7 linked regions of the Homo sapiens genome follow. The protein of the gene in region 2 purifies or fractionates together with the protein of the main gene of each other region. This does not show direct contact. Each region holds a gene or a part of one and is shown on either strand. Other genes may lie near its edges. The genes, in order: CNKSR3, BBS7, RIPK4, ALMS1, MADD, FAM83D and ZNF518A.

Region 1 (3,929 bases), on a different chromosome or scaffold from region 2:
GAGTGGGAAAAAGCATCAGAAGACAACATATAATGGTACACTCTTTTTTTTTTTTTGAGATGGAGTCTCTCTCTGTTGCCCAGGCTGGAGTGCAGTGGCTCCATCTCGGCTCACTGCAACCTCCACCTCCCAGGTTCGAGCGATTCTCCTGCCTCAGCTGCCCGAGTAGCTGGGACTACAGGTGCGCACCACCACACCAAGCTAATTTTTGTATTTTTAATAGTGACGGGGTTTCACCATGTTGGCCAGGATGGTCTCTGTCTCTTGACCTCATGATCCGCCTGCCTCAGCCTTCCAAAGTGCTGGGATTACAGGCATGAGCCACCATGCCCAGCTACATTCTTTTTAAACATTCAGAAACAGGTAAAACTGAAAAATATATAATTTAGACACAACACTTATGTGAAAAGACCAAGTTTAGGATGTTGGTTACCTGTGACGGGGCAGCAAGATTGTGGGAAAGGAAGGAAGCTACAGGTATGTGACAGAGAGTTGCATTAGCCCAAATCTCTACAGAGCTGGTGTCAAGGATGAAACTATTGGTGTTTTATTTGGAAGATACAAGCCCAAGGCGAGGTGAGAAAAAAGAGAAGGGAAGCAAAAGAAGACACAAAGTGACACAAAATGGCATGAACTAAATTACGTTCTCTCCAAATTCACATATTGAAGTCCTAACCCCAGTACCTCAGAATGTAACTGTATTTGGAGATTCGGTCTTTAAAGAAGTGATTCAGGCTGGGCCTGATTGCTCACGCCTGTAATCCCAGCACTTTGGGAGGCCGAGGCAGGCGGATCATGAGGTCAGGAGATTGAGACTATCCTGGCTAACACGATGAAACCCTGTCTCTACTAAAAATACAAAAAATTAGCCAGTTGTGGTGGCAGGCGCCTGTAGTCTCAGCTACTTGGGAAGTTGAGGGAGGAGAATGGTGTGAACCCAGGAGGTGGAGCTTGCAGTGAGCCGAGATTGTGCCACTGCACTCCAGCCTGGGTGACAGAGTGAGACCCCGTCTCAAAAAAAGAAAAAAAGTGATTCAGTTAAAATGCAGTCATTATGGTGGGCTCAATCAAGGACATGTGGACACAGATATGTATGCACATGGAGGAAAGACCATGTGAAGTCGGGGAGAAGAAAACCAGCTACACACTAAAGAAAGAGGCGTCAGGCCGGGCGCGATGGCTCCCGCTTGTAATCCTAGCAGTTTGGGAGGCCAAGGTGGGCAAATCACTTGAGGTCAGGAGTTCGAGACCAGCCTGGCCAGAATGGTGAAACCCTCTCTCTACTAAAAATATAAAAATTAGCTGGGCGTGGTGGCATGTGCCTGTAATCCCAGCTACTTGGGAGGCTGAGGCAGGAGAATCACTTGAACCCGGGAGGTGGAGGTTGCAGTGAGCCGAGATGGAGCCACTGCACTCCAGCCTGGGCAACAGAGTGAGACTCCATCTCAAAAAAAAAAAAAAAAAAAAGCCTCAGAAGAAACCAGTGCTGCTGACACCTTGATCAGTCTTCCACCTGCAGAGCTGTGAGAAGACACATTTCTGTTGTTTAAGCTACCCAGTCTGTGGTATTTTGTTATGGCAGCCCCAACAAACTAATACACAAAATGATGCACAGCCTTGCTGACTATCACTTCAAAATGAGCCAAACAGAGACACAACGGGGCACTAGGCAATTGTGTCCCACTCAGTGAAACTTCTCTGGAAAGCTGTAAGGTATAGTCCAGAGACGAGAGGAAGGGAAGAAGAAATTTATCCTCTGGGAGCCTCCCATTTCCTGTCTCCTAATAGTGAGAATTTTTCCATGAGAAGTTAATGTCCCTATACTTTCACAATGTGTTACCTTCTTTTGTTGCTGTTCAAGATGCCAAGCCTATGCCCTGCAGTGTGGCCTTTTGTCAGAGTCCATAAAGGGCAGGAGGAACTAGGAACTCTGGGTGTGTATGGTTGGCCCAGCTGCAGAGTTGACAGTCAAGGGGATAACCAACTCTAATCAGCCTAGAAGGGAACTTGGTAGCCTAGGTGAGTTGGTCAGGCACAGGCTGGGGCTAAGGCAAGGCAAATGGCTGAGGTCTAAGACGTAGGTGGTGCTGAGAAAATGTGGGGAAGCATACAAGATTTGTGACTGATGAGTAATATTCTAGTTCTTGGTTAGGATAATGGGTACATGGGGTGTTCCTTTTATTATTTTCAAAATGAAATGAAATAAAAGAGGGATATGTGTGGACTGATGATGATGTATAATGAATCAAAGATTATGATTAACTTAACTCTGCATACTTGAGTTTGTTTATTTTTCTATAAAAGGAGAATAGCAATATTAAGTCTTACAGCCCAGGAATGAAATGTCTTTCCATTTGTTTGTGTCTTCTTTAATTTATTTCATCAGTATTTTGTAGTTTTCAGTATACAAGTCTTTCACCTCCTTAGTTAAGTTTATTCCCAAGTATTTTATTATTTTGGGTGCTATTATATATGGGATTGTTTCGCTAATTTCCTTTTTAGATAGTTCTGTGTTAATGTATAGAAATCGCAACTGATTTTTGTATGTTGATTTTGTATTATGCAACTTTATTGAATTCCTTTATTCTAACATGTTTAAAAAATGGAGTCTTAGGGCGTTCTATATATGAGACGATGTCATCTGAAGACAGGGACAAAACAATTCTACAGTCCATATGAAACCACAAAAGACCATGAATAGCCATATCAATCTTGAGAAAGAAGAACAAAGATAGAGGCATCACATTGCTTGATTTCAGAATGTATAACAAAACTACAGTAATCAAAACAGTATGTTACTGGCCAACAGATAGACATATATGTGAATGGAACAGAATAGAGAGTCCAGAAATAGATTCACATGTATATTGTCAACTGATCTTCAACAATGGTGCCAAGAATACATAATGGGGAAAGGATAGTCTCTTCAACACATGGTATTGAGAAAATCAGATATCCATGTGCAAAAGGGGGAAACTGGACTTTTATCTTACATCACATACAAAACCCAACTCAAAATGGATTAAAGATTTAAACATAAAATCTGAAGCTGTAAAACTCCTAGAAGAAAACATAGGCGAAAAGCTCTTTGACATTGGTCTTGTCAATGATTTCATGGATATGACCCCCAAAACACAGGCAACAAAAACAAAAATAAGCAAAGTTACATCAAATCACAAAGCTTCTCACAGCAAAGGCAACAATCAACAGAGTGAAAAGAAAACCTATGAAATGGGAGAAAGTATTTGCAAGCGATGTATGTGATAAGGGTTGACATCTAAAATATGTAAGGAATTCATAACTCAATAGCAAAAAAAAAAAAACCCAATTTTTACAAATGGGCCAAGGATCTGAATAGCATGGGCTCTGGCATCTTGAACAGCAATGAAAGAAGCTAGTTGACACATTGCGAGAGTATAGGGATATTAACCTCTCATGGGCAAATTCTCATCAATGAGAGGAAATGGGAGGCTCCCAGAGGATAAAAGGTGCTCATCATCACTGATCATCAGGGCAATGCAAATCAAAACCACCGTGAGATATCAACTCTCACCTGTCAGGATGGCTATCATTGAAGAACCAAAACACAACAAATATTGGTGAAGAAGTGGACAAATTGGAACCCTTGCATACTGTTGATGGGAATGCAAAATGGTGCAGCCACTAAGGAAAACAGTATGGGTGTTCCTAAAAAATGTAAAAATAGAACTGCCATGTGACCTAGCAACCCTATTTCTGGATATTTATCCAAAAAAATTGAAATCAGGATCCCAAAGAGGTATTAGCATTTGCAGGTTCATTGCCGCATTATTCACAATATCCAAGATACACAAACAATCTAAGCGTCCATCGGCGGAGAAATGAATAAAGAAAATGTATATACACATACAATGGAATACTATTTAGCTTTTAAAAAGAAGGAAATTCTG
Region 2 (3,929 bases):
GGTCATTATATTGTTCTATACGCTTCTCAAGCTTCTAGTTGCACCCCTCGCTCCTCCACCATCACTTCTAACTCATCTTCTATAAGCTCCAATAATTCCTCTCAACTTCTCAATATAGTAGAAACTAAACTTTTCCTTCCTTTTTTTAACCTGTCTCTGAATGTGAAATGGCCTACTTCTTGGGCAAGGCCAATATCTCTACCTCTACCCATTAAGCTTGGATCCTCCTGCTTCTTCAAAGTCTTTGCATTCTCATTCTCACATCTGTAGGTTGTTTTTTGTTTTTGTTTTTTTGTTGTTGTTGCTGTTTGTTTTGTTTGTTTGTTTTGAGACAGGATCTCACTCTGTCACCCAGGTTAGAGTGCAGTGGCATGATCTCGGCTTACTGCAGCCTTGACCTCCCACCTCAGCCTCCTGAGTAGCTGGGACCACAGGCATGCACCACCATGCCCAGCTAATTTTTTTATTTTCTGTAGACAGGGTTTCACCATGTTGGTCAAGCTGGTCTCAAACTCCTGAGCTCAAGCAATCCTCCTGCGTTGGCCTCCTAAAGTGCTGGGATTATAGGCGTGAGCCACCACACCTGGCCTGTAGGTTGTTTGTTTTGTGTGTGTGTGTGTGTGTGTGTGTGTGTGTGTGTTTTTGTTTTTTTTGCTTTGTGTTATTTGTCTGGGAGAGAGCTCATTATTCTTTCTCTGCCTCTGCCTCTTAAGGTTCTTTCCCTAAGCAGATTATTGTGGTTTTCTCCTAAGTTCTAAAAACTTAGCATGGTAAAGTCTCAACTAGAGAGCAAGAAGTAGAATACCTCTTGCTTCTCTTGTTATTTTAGGATAATAACAGTATTATTCTAAAAACATAATTTTACCTCAGAATTCAGCCTTTTAGAACCAAGAACTCTTCAGAAATCTAATTGGTTTTTAACATCCATTCTGTGGAGGTTTTTCACTGTACCGTCCAAGGAAGCTTATCTGTGTCTAAACCTGTAATAATTACTCCCATTTTGAAGTACCACAATGAACCTCACACATTAATCATAGCAGACAATTCAACATGCCCCTAGCATATTATATACTTTTATAATAGCAGACCTTTGCTCTTTTATCATTCTGTGTCTTTGAGTATTTTTTCTTAAGATTCAAAACTGTTTATCCTTTAAGGTCCAACTTAATAGCTACTTTTTTTTTTTTAAGAGAGTCTCACTGTGTTGCCCAAGCTGGTCTCAAACTCCTGGCTTCAAGCAATCCTCCTGCCTCAGCCTCCCCAGTAGCTGGGATTATAGGTGCAAGCTACTGCATCCTGCAGTAGCTACATTTTTGAAGCCTTCTTTGATTCTCCCTTGATTCTCTTCTCTGTTTCCATAGCATTTTTTCTTACTTGTCTGTGATATTTATTGTTATCTGCTTAAAGTATATAATAATTTTTTATTTTTTATTTTATTCTTTTTTTGAGACAGAGTCTTGCTTTGTTGCCATTCTGGAGTGCAGTGGCACGATCTTGGCTCACTGCAACCGCCACCTCCTGGGTTCAAGTGATTCTCCTGCCTCAACCTCCCGAGTAGTTGGGACTACAGGCATGTGCCACCACGCCCAGCTAATTTTTGTATTTTTAGTAGAGACTAGTTTCACCGTGTTGGCCAGGATGGTCTTGATCTCTTGACCTCGTGATCTGCCTGCCTCAGCCTCCCAAAGTACTGGTATTACAGGCATGAGCCACCAAGCCCGGCCTCTAATAATTTTTATACAAACTTATTTCTCTAAGTTAAACTTTATTTTCATGGACAGTCTAATTTTAAATATCTTTGTATGTAGCCTGCAAGGACCTAAAACATAGTTTTGCACATAATAGGTACTCAACAGATGTTTTTCGGATGCCTGAATAAAATATATGTGTATGGAGGTAGTGTAGAAGTATGTGCTTTGGAGGCAGATGTACTAATGTTTCAATCCTGGCTCTGTGACTTACCAGCTGTGTGACCCTAGCTGGTTGCTTAACTCTCTGAACTTCAGTTTTCTTTTCTGAGGAATGAAAATAATAGCACTTACTTTATTGAATTGTTATGATGATTAAAAGAAGATAACCATTTGAGTCATTCTATAGTACCTGGCACTATGTGTTTACTAAATATCATCTGTTAAGATTAAAGACTAATAGAAATGTCATGATTTCTAAAACATAATTGAGATCAAAGTAGTAAGGGTGTATTATTTATCTTTCTAGAAAAAAAAATTATCTTTTTTTTTATTTGTTTTGAGACAGGGTCTCACTCATCAGCCCAGGCTGGAGTGCAGTGTCTCAATCTCAGCTCACTGCAACCTCCTCCTCCCAGGCCCAAGTGATTCTAATGCCTTAGCCTCCTGAGTAGCTGGAATTTTAGGAGTGTGCTACCACGCCTGGCTAATTTTTGTATTTTCAGTAGAGACGGGTCTCACCATGTTGGCCAGGTTAGTCTCGAACTCCTGACCTCAAGTGATCTGCCCGCCTTGGCCTCCCAAAGTGCTGGGATTACAGGCGTGAGCCACCACAACGGACCAAAGCAATTATCATTTGCATATAGCTAGTTGGTATACATCATTTGTGTGTGTGTGAAAACCAAATGAAAAGGTAACATTAACTATATGAAAGATGATATATATTAATTAGGAAACTTGGTCATCGTAAAAAGGAACCAAATGCAAGCAGCTTAACCAAATAAAATAAATTTATCGGCTCACATAACTTAAAAGTCTAGCAGTAATCTGCCTCACGCACAACTGGATCAGTGGCTTAATTGATGTCATCAAGATTTTATCCCTTGTTCAGTTCTGCTTTTATCTTTTCTTGGCTTTACCATGCAGTGTTATGGCCACCAGCAGTTCCTAGAATCCAGTCTTACATATTTTCAGCTGCTATAGAGCTTCTCTTGCCCACTGGCTCCAATAAAAGTCCCAGGATTGAGTATCATTGTTAAGCCATGAACCACTGTGGTCAGGGGTATGGAATGTACTGCTCAATGCTTCCTCCTGAAGTCCCAGAAATAGACTGAGACCATTGCCACTGAAACTGAAGAGGGCAAGAGAAAGAGGAGTGGTACCCTAAAGAAAAATAACGATCCTGGCCGGGCGTGGTGGCTCACGCCTGTAATCTCAGTAGCTCATGCCTGTAATCCCAGCACTTTGGGAGGCCAAGGTGGGCGGATCACAAGGTCAGGAGATCGAGACCATCCTGGCCAACATGGTGAGACCCCCATCTCTACTCAAAATACGAAAACATTAGCTGGGTGTAGTGGCATGTGCCTGTAATCCCAGCTACTTGGGAGGCTGAGGCAGGAGAATCGCTTGAACCCAGAAAGTGGAGGTTGTAGTGAGTGGAGATCACGCCACTGCACTCCAGCCTGGCAACAGAATGAGACTCCGTCTCAAAAAAAAAAAAAAAAGAAAAATAATGGTCCTCTGACCATAAGCAGTGGCATTGGATGCTGAGCATGAAAAACAGCAGATGTCACTCTTTCATATTTGATATCAGATTTCTTTTAAGGATAAAGCATATAGTCACACTGTAATTTGTGTGATTACATGAAAGAAAAACATACTTATGTAAGTAAGCAATTCTAAGTGCATTTTATATATGTCTATATATGAGACTAGCTGTTGGAAATATTAGTGAAAAATGAAGATAAAAGTTGTTTAAATGAAGTTTTTATATAAATTGTCACATCTTTAGGAGGCATATATCTTGTTTAGTTTTACGAGTATATTCAGAAGCTGAATTAATATAACAGTAAAGGATTACATGTTTAAATTTGCTTTATATTAATGATATATGTATACAGAAGAAATCTACAGTCAAATGAAATCTATACTCTAAGTACTAATCATAAAATATATATGTACTGGACAATTTCCTTCTACAGCTATTCTTTTAAAAAATATATTAATTTTATAGAAAAGGAG
Region 3 (4,628 bases), on a different chromosome or scaffold from region 2:
CACAGCTGGGAGCTGGCTCTTTTGGTCTCCAGGGGGCTCTGGTCTTCAGTCCCAGGCACCAGGCACTGAGCTAGCAGCAGACACTCCATAAATATTTGTCAAATGAAGCACACAGATGATTAAATAAATGAAATTGGAGCGTTTTATTACTTGCGTGGTGTGGGCTCTTAGTCACCCCCAGCTGCGGAGCTGTGTGCCGGAGACTGTAGATGGAGAAAGGTACTTTGCTAGAGCTGAGCCCCGGGAACAGGACAGGTGACTCACTTTCAAGTCCATTCATTTTTTTCCCACCAAAATAATAACTATGTTTACTTCCAAGGTATCTTCGTAGATTCAAAACTCCAATTATTTTTTAAAACATTAGTCCAAATGTAAGTTACATTTGTGACAAGCTTAAAACAACTATTTGCCACTCCAGCCTTAAGGAGACCAACTTTAATTTCCGGAGTATGTGGGAAAGGAAGTGGCTCCCTGGTCCCCCCAGGAGGCCCCCCGAGCAAGCATCGTCATGTTGGGATGTGTGAGTTCCCTCCAAAGAGCGGCCGGATGGGAGTGGGGAGGCAGTGGGGAGACGCGGCTCCCCGCTACAGGCTATGAAAGAAGGTCCGCGCCCGTTTGGAAGGGGGAGCCTGGAGACACTAGGTCTGCGGCTTTCAATGCGCTGACTTGGGGCAGCCTCTCTCTTTCCGAGTTACTAACACAAAAACACAGTTAATGTCGTTAAAATACCCTCTCCTTTAGCTCCGCCCTCCTGTCTTCATTATTAATCTCCTGTGGCCAAAAATAAGCCTTCACTCACCGTTGCGTCTCAGGAATGAGTGAGTGTTTTCTGAGGTGTGGACGCGTGCGTGATCTGTGATGCACTTCGGCCTCTAACCCAAATATCCTTCCAAGGCTGGGAATTTTTTTTCCCCATATGTGAAAAAAAAATCTTTCCTTTTCAAACCATCTGTTCTACCTGTAAAAAGAGGCTGTTATTTAGGAAAGGATGAGGGAACTCTTGCATTTGAAATGGACTTTAGATTTGCTGTTGGGTAATTTTTTAAAAAAAGTTACTTTCTGAGAGGAAACTCGTGTAAAAAAGCAAGACGTGAACCTGCAGGGAATTAGACTAACGAGTGAAGAAAGCCAATTTCAAAAAATTAGGCGCTGTATGATTCCTGTATCTAAACATAACATTTCTGAAATAAAACAATTTTAGAAATAGAGGAAAGATTAGTGATGCCAGGGCTCCGGGGTGCGGCTGTAAAATCGCCACAGGAGTGGCCAGGTGGGGGTGGATACGGGAAGGTACACAGATGATTACATTGTGTAAAACTAATACATGCAAAGGAAGACGAGTAAAACGGCAAAACTGAATAAGATCGGTGACTGTATCAAAGTCAATATCCTGGTTGTGAGATTGGACTTTTTTTTTTGGCAAAGTTTTGCAAAGTGGTAACACTGGGGGAAACTAGGCAAAGTGAATGATTTCTTACAACTGCATGTGACTCCGCAATTAAGGAAAAAAAAAAAGCAAAGAAAAGCAGGGCAGCTGATGCGCACGTCGAGACCCGTGAGAAGCGTGAGAAGCTCTGCTCACCCAGGGGAGAGCGCAGTGACCCGCAGCGTCTATTCATCCGTCCGCAGTCACCGGGCGCTGGCAGAGAGGGCGCCCGGGGGGCGGGTAAGTGGGCGGGGCCTGGGGGCGGGACGACCTACGGAAGTGACGTAACAGGGCGGAGCGCGCACCTGGGCACCTGGGCAGCCGCCGCGGCGCTGGCTAGACGTGCGCGATGGAGGGCGACGGCGGGACCCCATGGGCCCTGGCGCTGCTGCGCACCTTCGACGCGGGCGAGTTCACGGGCTGGGAGAAGGTGGGCTCGGGCGGCTTCGGGCAGGTGTACAAGGTGCGCCATGTCCACTGGAAGACCTGGCTGGCCATCAAGTGCTCGCCCAGCCTGCACGTCGACGACAGGTGAGCGGCCCGGGCGGGGCGCTGGGGCGGCTGGGGCCCGGGCTGGGGTCGGGGTCGGGGTGCTCTGGTCCCGGGGTCCTGCCTCTCTCTCCCGAACTCACCCCCGGAGCAGCTTCGGGGGGGAAACCAATTGCCGGCGAGGCCGCGGGGCTCCGACAATGTCCACTCGGCCTGTCCGGGCCGGAGGGGCGCGGGGGCTTTGGCGAGCCCGGGCTCGATCGCGCACGTCGGGGCCGGGTCAGGCGGCTCCTCTGGGGCTCCTCTGGGGCTCCTCGGGGGCCGCGTCTGCCCGGACGTCCTAAGGCGCCCAGTCGTGCTTCCTGACACTCCCCGAGTGGCCCTGGTTTTCGGGGTCTCCAGCTCGCCTTGCGCCTCGGACCCGCGCCCTTGGGAGGCGCGTCCGGCCCGCCCGGGACCCACCGGGGCGCTGCGGTCTGCGCAGGGCTTAGAAAAATTGCCATGTGGGCCTCTGGGCTTTGTGAGTGGAGTTAGCCTCCGTTCGACTTACTTAGTAATTTACGTTGGAACACAAATTGGTGTAAGACTGTAATTATTTCGGTCGGAAGCTTCGGCTTGGCTCGGGCGAGGCTTCCCGGGCGCCCGGCGCTTGCGCGGTGGAGCTCCGGGGCTCGGGCCTGGCAGTGGGGTCCGGCACGGGGCCCGGGGTGTTGATCCGTCCGCCCAGCGCTTCCTCGCCGCACACTCTCGTTTTAGCTGACTTAATTTCGAGACCGACCCGCTAGGGAAGGGCCTTGCATTCAAGTTCTGTGGCCGTGCCATGGGGCCCTCCTGCACCCCAGTTTCCCAGTCCAAAAGTCAGAATGGAACCTGCCTGTACCTACCTAGCAGGAGTGTTCAAGGTAACAAAGACGAATGGGAAGGACGCAGAGCCGCCCGTGTTAAATTCGGTGGGTCGGTTGTCGTCTGTGCATAATTTGAGAGGTAGGGAGAATGTTCTTGAACAGTACCTCTTTGTTGTTGTAGATTTCACTGTTTACAGTTGATTTTGATGGTTCATATGTAAGGCTCAATTTAGCACGTTTTAATTATTTATCCTTTAATGAAGCTTACCTTCTACATGGAAGCTATGCTTGTATTTTACCTAGAGATTCCTTGAACACATACACTCAGAAGCGACACCTTTTTAAAATACCATTTAGCCTTTGCTGCCTGGCAGACCTGGTTTCGAATGCTCGGCTGATTGAGTGATGGGGCCGCTAAGCCCCAGCTTTTCTGCAGAATCGTTGTGATGCCTGTGTCTGGGGTGGCAGTGCGTGCTGCAGCCCCATACCGTGACTGTGACGCCTCTGTGGATGAGAGGCCTGTCCTCTCCCTTTGCATTTTCGTCCTTGGCTAGGAGACTACACAGCAGAGATAGTGGTGGCTTTTTGCCGTAACCCTCAAATCCAGTGTTTCTTGGAAACACCAGTAGAGTGGTGACGAGTGTCATCAAATCACCACTAGTTCAAAGGTGAGATGCTGGCCCAGGCTGTGCACTTTTTCTCCCCTGCCTCAGATTCTGGGAACTTCTCAGGCCAGGAGGGGTGCTGTGGTTATTTTGATGAAATCCAAACCACTTTGAATACCAGCCAGTGGTTAGGTTCTGAAAGGGAACCCTCTCCATAGGGGCATTCGTTTTATCTCTTGGGGATGTGTGTGAGCTTTAATCATCAGTGAAAATTTTCACACCACTTTCTTATATTGGAAGAGCAAAGTAAACAAGCACCTACCTGGACTGACTCACCAGCTCACATCCTTAGGATCTTCTGTTATTTCTAGCGACCAGTCCCTTATTTCTTGGGTGGCCTGGTTGGAGGGAGGCTTTCTCCACTTAAGGTGGATCACTTAGGATATTGCATAGCTTGGTTGAAAAGTGTTTTGTACTTTAACTGGAAGCCTTTCCTACCCTGCCCAAAGCAGACAGGTGGTGGCATGTCAGGTGGCTAGGTCGAGGTCAGCATCGCCTAGCAGGAAGCATTTCACCTCCTGTGCTCTGCTGGGCCTGGTAGAGTAGGTTGGGGCTTTGCCATGTGCAGCAGTGGCTGATCTTTCTGAGAAGTTGGTCAAACCCTGGCTCTTTGTGAAGCTGATTCCTTTAGGTTAATTATTGACTGTATTGAGCCTGAGGTTCTTGTTAGGAATGTACATCAGTCCCACTGTGCTCCAGGAGCTGGTTGCATTGCAGTCTCACAAGGTTGTACCTAGGCCTTGAAGTAGTCGCTGTGCCACTTGCCCTGCCACATTTCTCAGTGCTTTTCTGACGAGCTGCCTCCCACCCCAGCCCCTCATATTTGCAAGATGTTCCCTGAATTGGGGCATAGGATTCTCCTAGGGTCTTTGTGTGCAGCCCCCGGCCCTGTACCCCTTCTGCCTAAGTCTTGCTTCTCTTCTCGGAGGGACAGCCCCTCTCACCCCTGACACACGGGTCTGGGCCTCTTCCAGGCTGCTGGGGGTCAGTGATGGTCTAGTCCACTTGTTACATAGGAGCCACCACAGGTACAGGTGCAGGTGAGGCTGATTTTCACTGGCCAACGCTGCTTGCCTCTCAAGGTGGTCTGGGGTCTCCTGGCTCCCTGCAGCTCCCCTGGGCCAGGCCTTCAGCCGGCCCTTGGCCACAGCACCTGCTCGGGGCTTGTTTGATGAGCAGGCTGCGCCAGGCCATGTGAGCTTG
Region 4 (3,929 bases), on a different chromosome or scaffold from region 2:
GTCTTGTACATTATAGAAATAGTAACATACCTGACACCTATCTACTGCATTCCAGAAACAATCCCCAATTACAGTGATGACCCAAGAAAAATCACATAATTTTCCAAAATATCTCTTTGGGAGGCATTTACTACCCGTCAAGAACCACTGCCTTCCACAATCTAGTCTTCTCCCTTTCACTCTCACTCTCCAAACACACTGGCCTCCTCCCTTTCCTTTAACACTCCCTTTCCTTTCACACACTTTACCTCAGCAACTGTGTGCATGCTATTTCTGTCTGGAATGCTCTTGTCACTGTTAACTGCCTTACTTTCTCACCTTACTCAGATATTTAATTCAATACCTCTTTCTCAGGTTCTGTGTTGACCATTCTGCTTTGTCTCCCTGGCTCTTATCCCACCATCTGACATTTATTTTACTTGTTTGGTTGTTATTCATATACTCTTCCTTAATGTAAGCTCATGATGAAGAAATGTTTGTCTATTTTGTTCAGTGGTGTGTCCTCAGGCTATAGATGAGGATGGCGCATATCAGGCATTCAATATGTATTTTTGGAATGAATGAATAAATGTCCAACAGTAGGGTAGTGAATAAATTGTTATGTTCATACAATGGGATATTACATACCTGTGAAATTATGCTTTTAGAGAAGTTTTAAAGGGAAATCCTAATATATTTAAGTTAAAAAAATAAAAGGTCCAAAACCGTACACAGTGTGGCCAATATGGGTTCCCTAAGGACAAGGCATATCTAGACAAACACTATTTCGCAACTACTCAGTTAATAGACTGAAAAAAGTCAATCATAAGATGGTGAAACACAAGATGGTTGAATGACAGTATAGTGAAGTACTCAAAATAGGTGTGAGAGTAATCTTATTCAAAAGTTTTAGACCTTTTTTTTTTTTTTTTTTTTGAGACAAAGTCTCCCTCTGTCGCCTAGGCTGGAGTGCACTGGCACAATCTTCGGCTCACTACAATCTCCACCTCCCAGGTTCAAGCAATTCTCCTGCCTCAGCTTCCCGAGTAGCTAGGATTACAGGCATGCACCATGACACCCAGGTAATTTTTGTATTTTTAGTAGAGACGGGGTTTCACCACGTCGGCCAGGCTGGTCTCGAACTCCTGACCTCAAGTGATCCACCCACCTTGGCTTCCCAAAGTGCTAGGATTACAGGCATGAGCCACCGCGCCCAGCCAAAAGTTTTAGACTTTTTATCCATAGCCCTTAGTAAACATTTTTATTGCTAATTTGGATAAAAATACTTATCAAATATATAAATGGCACAAAGCTGAAAGGGATATTTTAATAAAATAAATGATCAAATTTGATTAAAAATCATTCCAATAGGCTTGAACACTGATATAAAAGCAATAAAAAGAAATACAGGAGAGTTAAAAAGTATTACATAGGGCGAGGCGTAATGGCCTGTAATCCCAGCATTTTGGGAGGCCGAGGCAGGCGGATCACTTGAGGTCAGGAGTTCAAGACCAGCCTGGCCAACATAGTGAAACCCCATCTCTACTAAAAATACAAAGATCAGCTGGATGTGGTGTCATGCGCCACTCACACAGCTGTAATCCCAGCTACCCGGGAGGCTGAGGCAGGAGAATCACTTGAACCTGGGATGTAGAAGTTGCAGTGAGCCAAGATCATGCCACTGCAGTCCAGCCTGGGCAATAAAGTGAGACTCTGTCTCAAAAATAAGAAGATTTTTAAAAAAGTATTATATAGATACAAGAAATGAGAATAGGAATCTTGGCAGCAGTTCATGGTTTTTGTTTGGTTTGTTTTGCTTTGCTTTTTTCCTACAGCTTTAAGTTTTGAAAGCAGTACATGGTTTTTTTTAATGCCCAATTATGCTGTGACCATTAAAGATCTCACAGTACATTGACAGAAAGAGAATTACTGAATATACTTCATGCTGGTCAGATCAGAAGTGAAATTGTGTTTCATCTAATTCAGGACACCTTATTTTAAGAAAAACACAGACAAACCAGAGTCTACCCAAAGGAAGGCAACTTGCTTGCTGAGGGATCTGGAAATATGAACGCAAGAAAATAATTTTTAAAAATAGGGAAACACAGATCACTGAGAAAACTATGTAATTTTAAACAAATGATGCTAGGATAGTGCTCACTTTGGCAGCATATATACAAATGGTGCTAAGACAACCAATTGCCCATTTTATTATTCTTATTATTTTGTCAATTTTGTTTTTCACAAGCATATACGTAAAACCTAAAATCCAATCTAATTTGTACTTTTCAAACTTTTCCAAAATTGAGATAATCCAAATAAACTATATCACTGGAGAATAGTTTTCTAAGAAACTTTGTATGAATCAGGCCATGAAATCCTTGCATGATAGCTATATCAATTCTTTCAGGATTAATAATAGTAATAATAGCTGCCAGTTACTGAGTACTAACTAGACATCACACGTTCTACTAAGCATTTTATAGGCATTATCTCACATAATCCACACCAAAACCCTCTACGATAGGCATTATTATACCCTATTACTATGCAAAATAGCAGACAAAATGCCTTATCCACAGGAGAAAGAATAAATTATCATGTAATCACACACTGGAATACTGTACAGTAATAAGGAACAAATGAAAACTCTGCACATCTACATAGAAGCAGCTCAAAACCCTAACACTGTGTGAAACACCTAGTTCTCAAAAGAATATGTATCATATTGATTCCATCTTAGAGTTCAAAACCATACTGAAGAGAAGGAAAATCATTATATATCAAAATAAGAAATAAAAAAGATATGACTGGGAAAGGAGAAACAAAGAACTTCAACAGTATTTGGTAATGTTCTATTTCTCAAGCTCGATAGTAAATATATGGGAATTATTTTTACTTGCTGCTATTCTTTACATAAATGATTCATATATGCTCTTTTCTACATATGAAATAGTTAATAGAAGGAAAATATGTACTATTAAAATGAAAGCCATTTATACATAAGCTATTATAGCTGTGTACTCAAGTATTTAAAATAAACATTTGAAAATAGCTGGATTTCAAGATACCACTTTCAAGAGAAAATAAGGGTGACATTTAGTCTTCTCTGTTCTTAAAAAAAAAATTGATAAAACAAGCAAATCAGTTCTTATTTTTCTAAGAAGATAAATTTTTCAAAATATGAATTTGGAATCAATAAAAACAACATATCTAGACTGTAAGAATCTAATACTTATATCTTAACTTTTGAAAAATTAAGATGCCTGCCTAGGCACAGTGGCTCATGCCTGTAATCCCAGCATTTTGGGAGGCCAAGGCAAGAGGATCGCTTGAATCCAAGCGTTCAAGACCAGCCTGGGCAACGTAGAGACCCTGTCTCTGCCAAAAATTTAAAAATTAGCCGAGCAGGGCGGTACACACATGTGGTCCCAGCTACCTGAGAGGCTGAGGTGGGAGGATTCCTTGAGTCTAAGAGTTCAGGGCTGCAGTGACCTGTGATTGCACTGCTGCACTTCAGCCTGGGCAACAGAGCAAGACTGTCTCAAAAACAAAACCAAAAAAGGCTTTAGCCAAATATTATCAGCAACTCAACTGATGCCCAAGTAAGAGATCCTAATTCCATCACCCATTCTTTCATATTTACTTTCTTCATTTCCAGATTTCTTTTATACCTTGGACAAGTCAGTTGTTCTTCCATGACCAAATAACTCTGCCTTGATCTCTTCTACTTTCCTCCTGTCATCTTCATTTAATTCTGAAATGGAGTATCCACAATCATGTGCTAAATTGAACTTCATATTCCAGGCTGGAGAGAAAGCATACACTTGAGATAATACAATGCAAAAGTGATAATTTGTCAACAATTGCAACACAGAAGATCATCAATATATGCAATTTAATACCCACTGCAATGCTTAGTATGTCTTCTTCTCAATTATGACAACCTA
Region 5 (4,671 bases), on a different chromosome or scaffold from region 2:
CCCTGGGGACAGGCAAAAGCTGTGTTTGTCTCTCTCCTTTCCCCAGGACCGACTGATGTTCCCACGGATGCTAATGAAACTGGTGAGCCTCCGGACCCTGAGCAGCGTCCACTCAGAGCAAGTGTTTGCACTGCGTCTGCAGGACAAAAAGCTCCCACCGCTGCTCTCTGAGATCTGGGATGTGCACGAATGACTGTTCTGTCCCCATATTTTCTGTTTTCTTGGCCGGATGGCTGAGGCCTGGTGGCTGCCTCCTAGAAGTGGAACAGACTGAGAAGGGCAAACATTCCTGGGAGCTGGGCAAGGAGATCCTCCCGTGGCATTAAAAGAGAGTCAAAGGGTTGCGAGTTTTGTGGCTACTGAGCAGTGGAGCCCTCGCTAACACTGTGCTGTGTCTGAAGATCATGCTGACCCCACAAACGGATGGGCCTGGGGGCCACTTTGCACAGGGTTCTCCAGAGCCCTGCCCATCCTGCCTCCACCACTTCCTGTTTTTCCCACAGGGCCCCAAGAAAAATTCTCCACTGTCACTCTGTGGTATGGCCATAAATGCCTCAGCGCCGCCTCACTGATAGGTCTGGTACTGTTTGAACAGGAAGATCAAAATGAATACAAAATGAGAGAAACCAATTTCTGGATTGGGGGTGGGGACACGGTAATAGAGGAGGAAGCCTGCGATCTTTAGGATCCGCCTCCAGGCCCAGAGGAGGGAGAGTCACAAATGACAGCCTTGGCCGTGAGAGGGGGCCTCTTCTTACTAACCCCCACTGCGCCATATGGGTAAATGGAATGCTGAGGCTTAGGCGCCCCCTTCCCCTGCTGGGATCCGGGTAGGATCCGGTTGCCTTTCTGCGGTGGAGGAGGAAGTGTTGGATTTCAGCGCTAAGGCGTCGGCGGTGCACCTCACGTGCATGTGTAGCATGCCTTGGTTTTTCCTTTGGCATCTGAAAAAGGCACAACCTGAAAGACCTAGAACCCAGTGTCGGTCCCCAGGCCCTTTGGGACAGGAAGAGAAGAGCCGTGTGGCCGCGGGGAGGATGTCCTGAGGCGGGGCTGTCCTCGCGGACTGACTGGACTCCATCTCCCAGCGGGCGCCGCGGCGCGGCCACGCCCCCCCACTCCCCGCGCGCGCCCGGTGGAGGTAACCGCGGCCGCGCGCCCCCCTCTGCCCCCGCTGCCCAGGATTGGTAGGCTCCACCGCTCGGCAGCCGGCTTCCCTGCTCGGACGCCGAGCACCGCCAAAGCGCGTGAGTGGGGGGTGGGGACTGGGGGATGGGGAGCCCGTCAGGAAGTCTCAGGGGCCGATTATCTTGGGAAGTGACTTTCAGAGGAATCCCCATGTCGTCGAAACGGGCGCTATGACCCCGTCGGGTGAGAGTCTCTCTGAGCAACCCAAACAGAAGGTACTGCTGTGGGTCCCCCACTTGGCACGCGACGGCGCTGGGTCGGCCTGGCGCGCCCTCCCGCGCCCACGGGCGCTAGGCTAGGTCTGTGCGCAGCCGCTGTCTCCCGAGGTCGGCCCCGCCCCGCGGCGCTCGGCTCGGTGCAGCCCCGGCCCCCCGGGCTGAATGGTACGGCCCCGGCCCCGGCCTCCCCCTCCGCACCCCGCGCGAGTGGTGCGTGCCCCCCAGTGCAGACGCGGAACTGGCGCCCGCTCGGAGCGGCGCCGCGCTGGGGAGCGACTGACGCCCCGCTGCCGGGGGACGTCGGGCTGGGCCTGGCCAGTCCCCCAGAGCTTGGGAGGTAGGAGAGTCTGGGCCGGTGGGGTCCTGGGCGAGCGTCTGGGGACTCCGAGCGGGAGACGGGCTCTGAGAGGACACCGTGGCTCTTGGAGGAAGGGGTCTCTCAGGAGGCCCTGGGGGAGTGTGAAGGGGCGTGGGGACGGGGGTCTGCCGAGGAGGGGCGGGGACGGGGATGGGGGCGCCCCGGGCAGAGGAGGGGGCTCAGGCTACTGGGCTTGGTTCCTGCCGAGCGGGCGGCTCGGGTTCAGGTTCGGGGCGGGGGCGGGGGCGGGGGAGAACTGTCCAGCAGGTGAGGGGGCGGGCAGAGCTGGCCAGCCCTGGGGCCGAACCCGCACAGCGCTTGGCGGGTGTGCTTGTGCGTGTGCGTGCTTGCGCCTTATTTTTGGCTAGAATTTGGAGAAACACGTTTGGTTCTCAAGAAATTTTTTTTTTAACTTGATATTTCAAAATTGACTTGCTGGAGAGAGAACACCATTTCATCTTTCTGCAATCGCTCTCCTCCCCATCCTCGTGTATCTACCTTCTTCCACCTTTCCCTGCCCTCCCCTCTACCCCAACCCTGCCAGCTGCCAGCCTCCTTGCTCCAGTTCTCCCATACGCTGGACCAGTCTGTGCTGATGAGCTTGCAAGGTCACTGCCTGGGGAGGTAGAGGAGGGGAGGAGAGCCTCCTGTTGTGTTCACGTCAGCAGAGATGTCATATCGCTCTCTGGTTCCTGTGGTTTTACTGTGAGATCCTGTCCAAAATGAGGGACGAATCCAAAGGGTTGGTTAGCATGGCTATTTCTGCTGAAAAGGCATAGATAACTTAAAAGTTTGTGAATCCTAAATCTACCTCTGGGTGGAGCTGATGGTGATGTCGGACTTCAGCAGATAGATATGCATTTTGAGCTGGATGCTTTTGGAATACAGGAAGATAGGAACCAGAGGCTCTACGTTAGTAAACATGGTTGAGGCAAGAGGCAGAGTCGGAGCCTCGTTGGTTGTGAAGACAAGAGTGTGAGTTGTGGGTGATGTTAGAGGATTTAGTCTTTAGAGGAGTTAAAGGTGTTAGTCTTTTTGGGGAGGGGAGAGAGGAGAGAATGAGAAGGAAAATCTTAGTTATCTTTGCAATCTGAATAACTGAAGGCAGTGGCTGCTGATCAGATGTGAACTCTGGCTAAAAATTTATCCTACCACCCGTAGCTAGAATAATAACAAGATCTCAGGGTCCTTGTGGCTCTGGAAGGAAATGATTGTGAGTGACTTGAGTTTCGTCAGATAGTTGTCAGTGGAGAGGGACTGAGATCCCACCAAGGCTAGAGAGGCCTGATGCGTACTCAGTAGGAGGTGCTTCAGGCCTGATCTTTGAGATTTTGGTTGGAGAGGGCTCCGGGTTTTCAATGTAAACATAGATTGCAAGGTGTAGTCTAGAGCTCTGGTTCTATAAATTCTGTTTTACTTTAAGATACTTTGGCTCTCACTCTAGTCATTTCTACATAATTCTTTTTTTTTTTTCGAATCCCATGACAGGTTAACTACATAATTCTTTATTAAAACAAATTATGCTTTTTACTCATATCCCATTTCATTTCTCTATTTCTCTCCCCCTTGGATTCTGCTCAGGAGGAGCTGAGTGCGGCTCTGTTATAGTGCCCCACCTCCTGCAGTTTGCTCATGACTCTATTGCAGTTGGGAGAACCAAGGGACTATTTGGGTTCGTTAAGCAGTGGTGATACCTAGAAATGAATATATGGCGTGCTCAGAAACCTGGTGGTGTTCTAGAGATATCACTATCAAAAGCCAGAATTAGGACGAAGTACAAACTACAGACAGATGAGGGAGAAGACAACCTAATTCTTAGCAGGTACTGTCAGTGGGAGAAGTGTCTCTAGGTTCGAGGAGAGTGAATTGTTATGGGCCTTGGCTGACTCTGGAGTAGCAGCTGCTAGCACTGTGCGGTCACCAAGCAGGGGAGGGGCTGTGGCTCTGCTATAAATAGTGCTGGGAGCCAGAGTCGCTATAGAGATAAAACTGAATCCTATTACCTGCAGGTCCTCTACTGGGAGCAAGGGAAAGGAGAAAGCAGTATTTTGAGGATTTGAGAGGTATTGCAAATAGGTCTTGTTTATTGTTAGGTAGGGGAGAAAAAACTTCTACTCATTACCTAAACCAAATAGGGCCTTAAGCATCCAGGGAGTGTGTATGTCTGTATATATGGGAGTGCCCGCAGCAGCAGGTGAGGGAGTAGAGGGTGTGTGTGTGTATACGATAATGGGTTTCTCTCCGTGTGCATTGAACAAGGTCTTAGGCCGCATGTAGAGCACAGAGGTAGAATCCTGGAACACTAGAAATATGAGAAAAGAACTTCTACTCATAGAAGAAGTAGCCCTACCAGAAATAGCTGTGCAGCGGGGTGAAACGTTTTATTTAGAGAAGTGTATAGACACTTAACACGAAATAAATTATAATTAAGACCATGAAAGCTTTTCCTAATTTTAGGACATAGTTTAGAAATTTCTCTGAGCACGTCTCCCTGTCCTTGCAGAAATCCTGGTATTTCTGCCTCTAATTCATAGCCTCTGTAATGTATAGTAGGACAAGGACTCATCTGTGGGTATTGTATTACTGATTCTGAGCCTGAGATCAAAATAGAGGAGAGATTATGATTCAGCACCAAGGGCAGAGCTAGTAGCAGTGGCCTCTGGGCTCCTTTCTTGCCTGAAGGAGGGAGAAAAGTGGTGCAGATTAGGCAATTGGGGCATGGACATTTTCATTTGAGATCACATGAGGTAGAATAGCCAGCTGTTATTGTCTGAGCATGGTTAACTAGACAGTCTATGTGGTAGTTTTACATCAAGCTGAATGTAGATTGTTGAAACAGAATAATTAAGTTTCCATCTAGACCTAGAAGTGCAGGTTAGTGCTAGCTAGTTGAGGAGTCTGGTTTGA
Region 6 (3,619 bases), on a different chromosome or scaffold from region 2:
ATCAGCATTTTATGTGGCAGACACCTTCCCCTGTTATAGATCTTTTTTGCTGTAGCTAAGTCAGGAGAGGGAGGAAGGCATCATTTAACTCTCTTCCCTTTTGTCTGTCCATGAGAATGAGACAAAAACAGGATTCCACAGCCATACCAATCCTGATTAGAAGGATGTAGAAACCATTACACTGCCTGCCACTGGACCAGGAAACTGGGATAATTGTCAGTGTCCTCTTTTGCCCCTACTCTGGGATATTAGATGGCTAAATCACTGTCAATACACCCAGCTGATGAAATGAGGCCCATGGGGCCACCAGAGTTAATATTGGGAATGAATATAGGAACATACACTAACGCCTCCTTTGGTAGACAAGCAGAGTACCAGAGTACCAAGGACCTACTGAAATAGCTCAGGCTTTTTCTTCGAAAAGAGAAAAGGCAGAGCATGTGCAAAGGCCTGCTATTTCTGGCCAGTTTCCTCACTTAAACTATAGAGTAACATCAATATTCATGATGCTGAGGAAGGTTAAGTGGATCTATTTTCTCTTCTATAGTTTGGATCATCTACTTCTTCCTCACCCTGACACTATTTAAAAAACCTTCAGATATAGATATCTATATACCTATATCTATTAGGTGCATTAATTTGTGACATACTCCCAGATTTAAAGAGAAAAGTGTCAGAGGGGGGGAAAAAGTACAGAAGCACAAGTTTATATTTATTTAATGCTAAGAACACAGATATTCTAAAGAGATAAACAGAAAGTAGTTTTATTTTTTCTAAATAGGATTTTGATCACAAAAATGCTGGTGATTCAAACCTTTAAAACAGAAGAGCATACAACCTAAGAAAAATGCAAAACAGGCTACAAACCTGTACATCATGTTACTGCACTGAATACTGTAGGCAACTGTAACATAATGGTATTTGTATCTAAACACAGAAAAGGTATAGTAAAAATACAGTATTATAATCTTATGAGACTGCCAACATATACGTGGTCTGTCATTGACCAAAACATCATTATGTAGTGCATGACTATTAAAATTGTGCAAAACAAACCCCTGTATCCATAGTGTTTAAACCATAAAACCAATACCTGGTATATACATGACAAAACAAAGCATGTAAAATAATATGCAGCCTAAAGAATTCAAAGACAACAAAGGTGACAAAGTCAGGTAAAAGAAAGGCAATTAGGGACATAAGATATTTTTTAAAGCAGGAAGCTGATGATGTCCACTGTAAGCCTGGAAGAAACCAGGAGTCTGAACACGGAGCAGTTACTGATAGGAAGGATAAAGTGCTACATCTCTAACAGCAAGCAAATTAACTCTGCTGAAATTGCCAGAATGAAGGCCAAGGTGGTTTTCAGTAAAGAGTGTTCTCCTTGACAGCATAGCCAGCATGTGGTTGAGCCGGGACCTGATACCAGCGAAGTGGAATTGCCGCTCTTTGTTCAAGTTTCTAAGTGAGTCACTCAAGTACAGTTCCAGGTGGGGGGTGCCCAGGTACTTGGGATAGCCAGGATTGTGGAAGTCAGTGGTTCTGATGGAAGCGGGAGAACCAGTGGAGCTTGCCACAGAGCCTTGGGAAGACACAGAGGAGGAAGACTTCAAACTGGAAGATCTCGATACAGACATTTTTGAGACTGGTGACCCTTCTGTAGATTGAGTTCCTCGAGGAAAGAGAATGTTCTCATCCATGTCAGTCTGAGTAGTGGTCGATCTGGACCAAATCGTGGTTTGAGAGCTTGCTATCCTGGTGATGACTGCAGTCTGGGTACCAGCACATGCTGTGGTGATGCTGGTTTGTGTTCCCACCTCACTCACACTCAGCCCTGGCATCTCCTCTCCTGGCTCTGTTTGAGTGGCAGCGTCAATGGCCTTTCTGCTCTGGAGCTCGTCCCTGTGGCTGCTGAAGTAGTCTTCCTCACTAACAGTAGAGGACTCACAGTCATGGGGCTTGCGCTCTGCCTTGCCCTCTGCGGGCATCTCTGGGTCCAGGTCCGCCTTCCTGGGAGTACTTGACAGCCTAGCCAGCCGCATCCGCAGCAGGTTGCCCAGGGTGAGCTCCTTGGACTGTGGTTTTCGGTTGGTGAGGTGATCAAACTTGTTGCTGCTCTGGAAGTGAGACAGGAGTTTGGGGCTGATGGGCTTGGACTGGGCATACAGGATTCGGAACTCCAGATCAAAGTGTTCAACCACTTGGCCAGACAGAATTACCAAGTTACTGCTGTTTAATTTGCCATCCGTCCATGTAAAACTTAAAGATTAAAAAGAAACAAACAGCAGCTGGTAAGGATGAGCAATTTTGTTTTACTCACTGTCCATCTGAATAATATAGTACAGGTATCTTACCACATAAGGGTCACAAATTTGGTGATATCATACCTACCATTTGCATGTATTTAACTAGCCTTAACACATATATAACATTTATGTGTGTTACCATAAAAGTAAAAAGGCCAACTGTTTAACAAACACACTAAATGCTCAGCCTCAGAGGGTTTTTTTGTTTGTTTGTTTGTTTTGAGACGGGGTCTTGCTATGTTGCTCAGGCTGGTCTTGAACTCCTCGGCTCAGGCAGTCCTCCCACCTCATCCTTCCAAAGTGCTAGGATTACAGGTGTGAGCCACCTCACCTGGTCCTTGCCTCAGAGTTTTTAAAAACTGGAAAGGGGGCCAGGCGCGGTGGCTCATGACTGTAATCCCAGCACTTTGAGAGGATGAAGTGGGCAGATCCTTTGAGGTCAGGAGTTCAAGACCAACCTGGCCAACATGGTGAAACCCTGTCTCCAGTAAAAACACATAAAAAATTAGCCAGGCGTGGTGGTGCATGACTGTAATCCTAGCTACTCGGGAGGCTGAGGTGGGAGGATTGTTTGAACCCCGGAGGCAGAGGTTGCGGTAAGCTGAGGTCACACCACTGCACATTCCATGACTGGGCGAGATTCCATGACTGGGCGAGACTCCATCTCAAAAAATTAATTAAAAATAAAAAATAGGGCTTCTAAATATTTAGGCCAGCATCCCCATTTTAAAGGTAAGAAAACTATTTAGGCCAGCACCCCCATCTTAAAGGTAAGGAAACCAGATAAAGGGATTATCACAGAGGGGAGCTACTGCTGGACTCCAGATCAGACCCTAGGCCCTATGAATTGCTAATGCCCTGCTCCTTGCTACTGTTTGAGTGGCAACATCAGTGGCCTTCCTGCCCTCAAGCTTGTCCTTGTGGCTGCTGAAGTAGTCTTCCTCACTAACAGTGGAGGACCCACAGTCATGGGGCTGTGCTGCCATTTTCACAAAACACCATGGCTCAAAACATTTTAGAGCTGATTAGTGGCCATGTGCCCTTGCCTGTACGGTGTCCCTTCCCCGCCTCCCTCCTCTGCTAGCAGAACTCACACCCACCTGTACCCCAGAAAGCTTTCATTATCATACTCTCTCCAACCACAATAGGGGCAGGCATGTGGTCCACACTGGCCAGAGTATCCTATTCCCTTGGATGCAGGGATTCATTCAGGGTGGGCATGTGATCCCACCAGAGCCAAGTAAGTTTTCAGAGATTTCTTTTTTCTTTATCAAATGGATTCTGACAGAAGGGATTGATAGTAATTCTGAGTG
Region 7 (3,929 bases), on a different chromosome or scaffold from region 2:
AATCTCTAACAAGTGACAGAGTTCAACTGGAAAAAAAATTTACTTGCCAAAAACTCTTCAAGCATTGTATGAGGTGTAACTGTAGTGAGTTAAATGTACTTTCAAGGAGCCTAATATCCTTCAAAATAACTATATTTAGCAGATATAGAGTGACTTCTTTACCCAGGTTCTCTCAAAGTATCTTCACAAATGTGAGAAACTCCTTCAGTTCTACGATGAAAGAGCTCTCCATCTCCAGAGGAGCTACACTTAGATGCATAAGGCTGGTGGAAGAAGAGAGGGAATGGGGGTGTCAGCCATTACCCTCTACTAAGAGTCACTAAAGAACTAAAGTGGGAAAATTGTTTTATCAAAATTTTCTTTAGCCCTAACTTCCCGAGAACACGTTTAAAAAATTAAATCAAGGTACTTCTGTGCTGTGATTAGTTTCTTTCAAAACTTTTGAGTGCAGGGATAGCATTTTCAAATATCATACATACAACTTTTACTCTTCCACAGAAATACAATCAACTTTTAAAATGTTCGATTTCAGGTACTATACTGAAGTAGAAAATGTCTGCATTATGGTAACTGAACCCGTTGTTTTCTTCTAAGGTAATTTTACTTTTCTTTTCCTTGGTAATTATGGTAAACTATTCTAACATGTTCCAATCCCGAGTAGCTTCCATTAAATGTCTCTGCCCATGACCAGCCCAAGTATCCTGATTGTCAAATACTCTACCACAAAACCAACAGTTAAATTTAGCCTTCAAAATATTTTCAGAGGTAGTCTTCACAATCTGGTAATTGTTTTTGCTTGTCTTTTTGAGTGTTAATTTTAGCACAAATCTTTCTTTCACAGAACTAACAGGTTTAAATGTTTTGTGCCTCTTGGAAAAATCATCATAAGTTGTTTTAGGAGGGTTATAACAAACTGGTTTCAGTAAAGCATTTATAGTTCTTTTTGACAATGAAACCTTAAGTACATGTCCATTAAATTTAGCAATAGTTTTCATTACACTTACTACTTCTGGTGCATCTGCGTCAGGATGATTCAAAACTACAACTGGTTGGTTTCTCCTAGGACATTTCACAAGCTGTTTAGAACTAAAAGGGAAAAGCCGCAAAGTTCTGATGGAATCTTTTGAAAGCCTAGGTCTGCTAAATCCAAATGTTTCACGGACATCTTCAGGTTTTGCCTTTTCTTTACACTTTCTATGCAATGTTGCTTTTCTTCTTGGAGGTTCTTGGTAACTATCCCTACACTTTCGTTTACAGTTTCTGTTTCTAGATACAAAGGCAGTTTCAGAGTCTTTACTTCCATGAGTTTTTGTTTTTGAAAAAATTTTTTTGGAAGTCTTTTTTCTATTGAAGTTCCTCTCAATTCTACAATTTGTTTTACACCTTAATACCCTGGACTCTGAACAGTCACTGACACATATTGGTTCCTCAGAAGATTCTGGGCATGTTGCAGTAGAAGTTATCACAATTTCATTTGCTGGCATTAAGTCATCTAGTAAGAAGGGTAAGGCATCTCTAGATTCTGGCTCTTTCTGCTCTCCTCCTATAATCTGATTAGATGGTACGTTGTCTTTTTGCAATGAGGATGCAGAGTTGCTTACTGACAGATTATTAGCAGCAGTCACATTTAAAACAGGGTTAAAAATTTTCAGCAATATTCTTTGTGGTGTTCCTTCAGGTTTCTTTGGCTGTATATTTTGATAAGTACTATTTTGGACTAATTTGGGCTTAAGCAGCTCAGTTTTATTTGGCATCACACACTTTAAAAAAACAGCTTGTTTGCCATCAGGCAAGAAGGTATAAAGAGGTGGTTTTGGAAAAATCTCATTCTGCTGTTTTACTGAATCGGAGATATTCAACTTAGTGCTCTGTTGCTCAGATAGCATGTTAGGAATAAGAACAGCTTTCACAGAACTCGTTGGTTTCAAAATGTAAGGGCCTTTTAATGGCAAAGTATTTTCTGAGCTACTTTTCATGCTCAAACAACTGCCAATGCTGGAACAAAGTCCAGGTGTAAGACAATTATTGTTTGGTTCTACCTTCAAAATAGGTGTTTTGCAAGGCTCCTTAGTCACAGTTCCACGAGCTGGGGCACCCTCGGTTTTGACAGCGGAAACACCTTCAAGTTTCCCATTATTAAGTGTTAAAACCATCCCAGGTTTCTTGTTTACAAAAAGAGAAGCAGGGATACCTTGTGAATTAACCAATGGAAGTGCATTTCCAGGAATAACTGGTAGCCCAGGCTTGTTAGTAATGTTCAATGGTATTAAGAATCCTTTTGAAGTCTGAACAATTATAGTTTTTTTTTGTTCTGAATTTAAAAGTGGACTCTGCATATAAAAAGAACCTAAATTTTGTGTGGTGGCTCGTAGTTTGTCTTTTACAAGCTGCTGTGTTATTATCGCATCTGACTGAGTCTTAAGTAATGTGCCAAAACCTGAAATTCTAGGCATCTTCTCTGAATCTCTCACATCTTGTGGTATTGATGACACTTGTTTTTCTTTTCCAAATTTCAAATTCAAATCATTTGTAGGCACATTAATACCCACACTGCCAGGTGGAACTGGGAAGATGCCTTGCACTTTGAAATCTTTCGAAGATTCAACAATTTTGCCTTCTCTCTCGTGTTTTTGAAATGACTGGTCACAATGAAGTGGCAAGCCTTTATTTGGAGTGTTACTAGAGTCTTGTTTTACATCAGGTTTTATTTTCAATACATCCTGAAGCAATTGGTTTACTTCAGGTGGCAGAAATTCTGATGCCTGTTGGCTCTGGAGAGAGAAAACAGATGTGATTCTAGGCATCATAGGTGAATCGACATTAGAAAAGTCTTCCCATTTAGATTTTTCAGTCGCACACTCTAAATTTTGATTTTCATTACTGTACAGGTTTTGTCCATCAATGTTTTGTCCTTTTTCTAAAACATACTGTTCTTCAATTTCAGATTTTGCTTTTAAAGTTCCATCTTTATCATTTAAAAGGCTAATAGATGCTAATAGGCTATCTGGTTTTGAGCTCTCCTGCCTCACTAGTGATAAAAATGATTCACTAATTGGTTGTTGGACAACTGTTTTGCTGGATGAAGATTCTCTTTGAGGGTTTTCATACACTGCTGTTCCTGAAAACCTACGACGTTTATTAGAATTATTCACTTTTGAGTAATTATGAAAAGGTAATGATCCTTGGTTGGAGGATTCAACAGGTAACTCACAGTTGCCATAATTAATGCAATAATTATGCATATCTCCACTGTTGTATGCATTTGGTTTGGCAACACAGTTGACTTTATCTGGACTTTTAATGGTGGTACCTAATACCTCGGGGTGACTCTGAGTGAGATGATTTCCCCAGAAGTCAACATTATCTCTTGTTTCAAATTTTGTGGTCAAATTCACTGATGCTGTAACCAATTCTGATGTTGCTGACAAAGAAGATACACTTTTCTCATAATCCATTGTTTGAAGCATATTATTCCTTTGAGATATCAAAGTCATTTCTTTTTCTGAACTTGCTTTCCCTGAAAGTATAGAAGATGAACATGAAAATGGAGTAGCTGCTTTCATATAAACTGTGTCATTTAACTCAGTTGTTACTCCTGTTAAAAATCCATTAGTGTCCAAAGTCTGGGGCTGCAAATTAGCAGTACCGTCCTTTGCAGCACCTGACTGTGAGCCTGGTGAACATACATTTTGTTTGATAGGCACCAATTTTAATACAATATGCTGTTTTCCATCCATCATCTTGAAGCCCATAAACGTAGCATTATAGTTAGGGGAAACTGCTAGTTTATTATTTTTCATCATTACATTTTTCAGTGTAGGTCCTAGTACAGCAGTCTTCATGAAACCTGAACTAGCGTTTGGTCCCTCTTCAGCTCTATTACCTTGCCCAGTGGACAGAGGAGTTGGCTTCTCTGACTCTGATTCAGG

Evidence for each region.
Region 1: the proteins of BBS7 (region 2) and CNKSR3 purify together in Homo sapiens (affinity purification with mass spectrometry; 2 studies listed by BioGRID and IntAct, with this or other methods). This does not show direct contact.
Region 3: the proteins of BBS7 (region 2) and RIPK4 purify together in Homo sapiens (affinity purification with mass spectrometry, with the first as the bait; 2 studies listed by BioGRID). This does not show direct contact.
Region 4: the proteins of BBS7 (region 2) and ALMS1 purify together in Homo sapiens (co-immunoprecipitation; 3 studies listed by BioGRID and IntAct, with this or other methods). This does not show direct contact.
Region 5: the proteins of BBS7 (region 2) and MADD purify together in Homo sapiens (co-immunoprecipitation; 3 studies listed by BioGRID and IntAct, with this or other methods). This does not show direct contact.
Region 6: the proteins of BBS7 (region 2) and FAM83D purify together in Homo sapiens (affinity purification with mass spectrometry; 2 studies listed by BioGRID and IntAct, with this or other methods). This does not show direct contact.
Region 7: the proteins of BBS7 (region 2) and ZNF518A purify together in Homo sapiens (affinity purification with mass spectrometry; 2 studies listed by BioGRID and IntAct, with this or other methods). This does not show direct contact.

What each region holds. Positions count from the first base shown.
Region 1 is NC_000006.12:154,388,337-154,392,265, reverse strand, and holds part of CNKSR3 (connector enhancer of kinase suppressor of ras 3), read left to right. Parts: 3' UTR 1-3,929. UniProt on the Homo sapiens protein: Involved in transepithelial sodium transport. Regulates aldosterone-induced and epithelial sodium channel (ENaC)-mediated sodium transport through regulation of ENaC cell surface expression.
Region 2 is NC_000004.12:121,828,721-121,832,649, reverse strand, and holds part of BBS7 (BBSome complex member BBS7), read left to right. Parts: intron 1-3,921; coding exon 3,922-3,929.
Region 3 is NC_000021.9:41,764,189-41,768,816, reverse strand, and holds the start of RIPK4 (receptor-interacting serine/threonine-protein kinase 4), read left to right. Parts: upstream 1-1,764; 5' UTR 1,765-1,775; coding exon 1,776-1,957; intron 1,958-4,628.
Region 4 is NC_000002.12:73,455,020-73,458,948, reverse strand, and holds part of ALMS1 (centrosome-associated protein ALMS1), read right to left. Parts: intron 3,788-3,929; coding exon 3,654-3,787; intron 1,847-3,653; exon of another isoform or gene 1,623-1,846; intron 1,009-1,622; exon of another isoform or gene 1-1,008. UniProt on the Homo sapiens protein: Involved in PCM1-dependent intracellular transport. Required, directly or indirectly, for the localization of NCAPD2 to the proximal ends of centrioles.
Region 5 is NC_000011.10:47,268,504-47,273,174, forward strand, and holds the start of MADD (MAP kinase-activating death domain protein), read left to right. Parts: upstream 1-1,629; 5' UTR 1,630-1,743; intron 1,744-2,153; exon of another isoform or gene 2,154-2,477; intron 2,478-2,575; exon of another isoform or gene 2,576-2,739; intron 2,740-3,458; exon of another isoform or gene 3,459-3,607; intron 3,608-4,671. Other genes in the region: NR1H3 (oxysterols receptor LXR-alpha), read left to right, coding at 47-193. UniProt on the Homo sapiens protein: Guanyl-nucleotide exchange factor that regulates small GTPases of the Rab family. Converts GDP-bound inactive form of RAB27A and RAB27B to the GTP-bound active forms.
Region 6 is NC_000020.11:38,950,179-38,953,797, reverse strand, and holds the end of FAM83D (protein FAM83D), read right to left. Parts: intron 2,260-3,619; coding exon 1,278-2,259; 3' UTR 692-1,277; downstream 1-691.
Region 7 is NC_000010.11:96,157,478-96,161,406, reverse strand, and holds part of ZNF518A (zinc finger protein 518A), read right to left. Parts: coding exon 633-3,929; 3' UTR 1-632.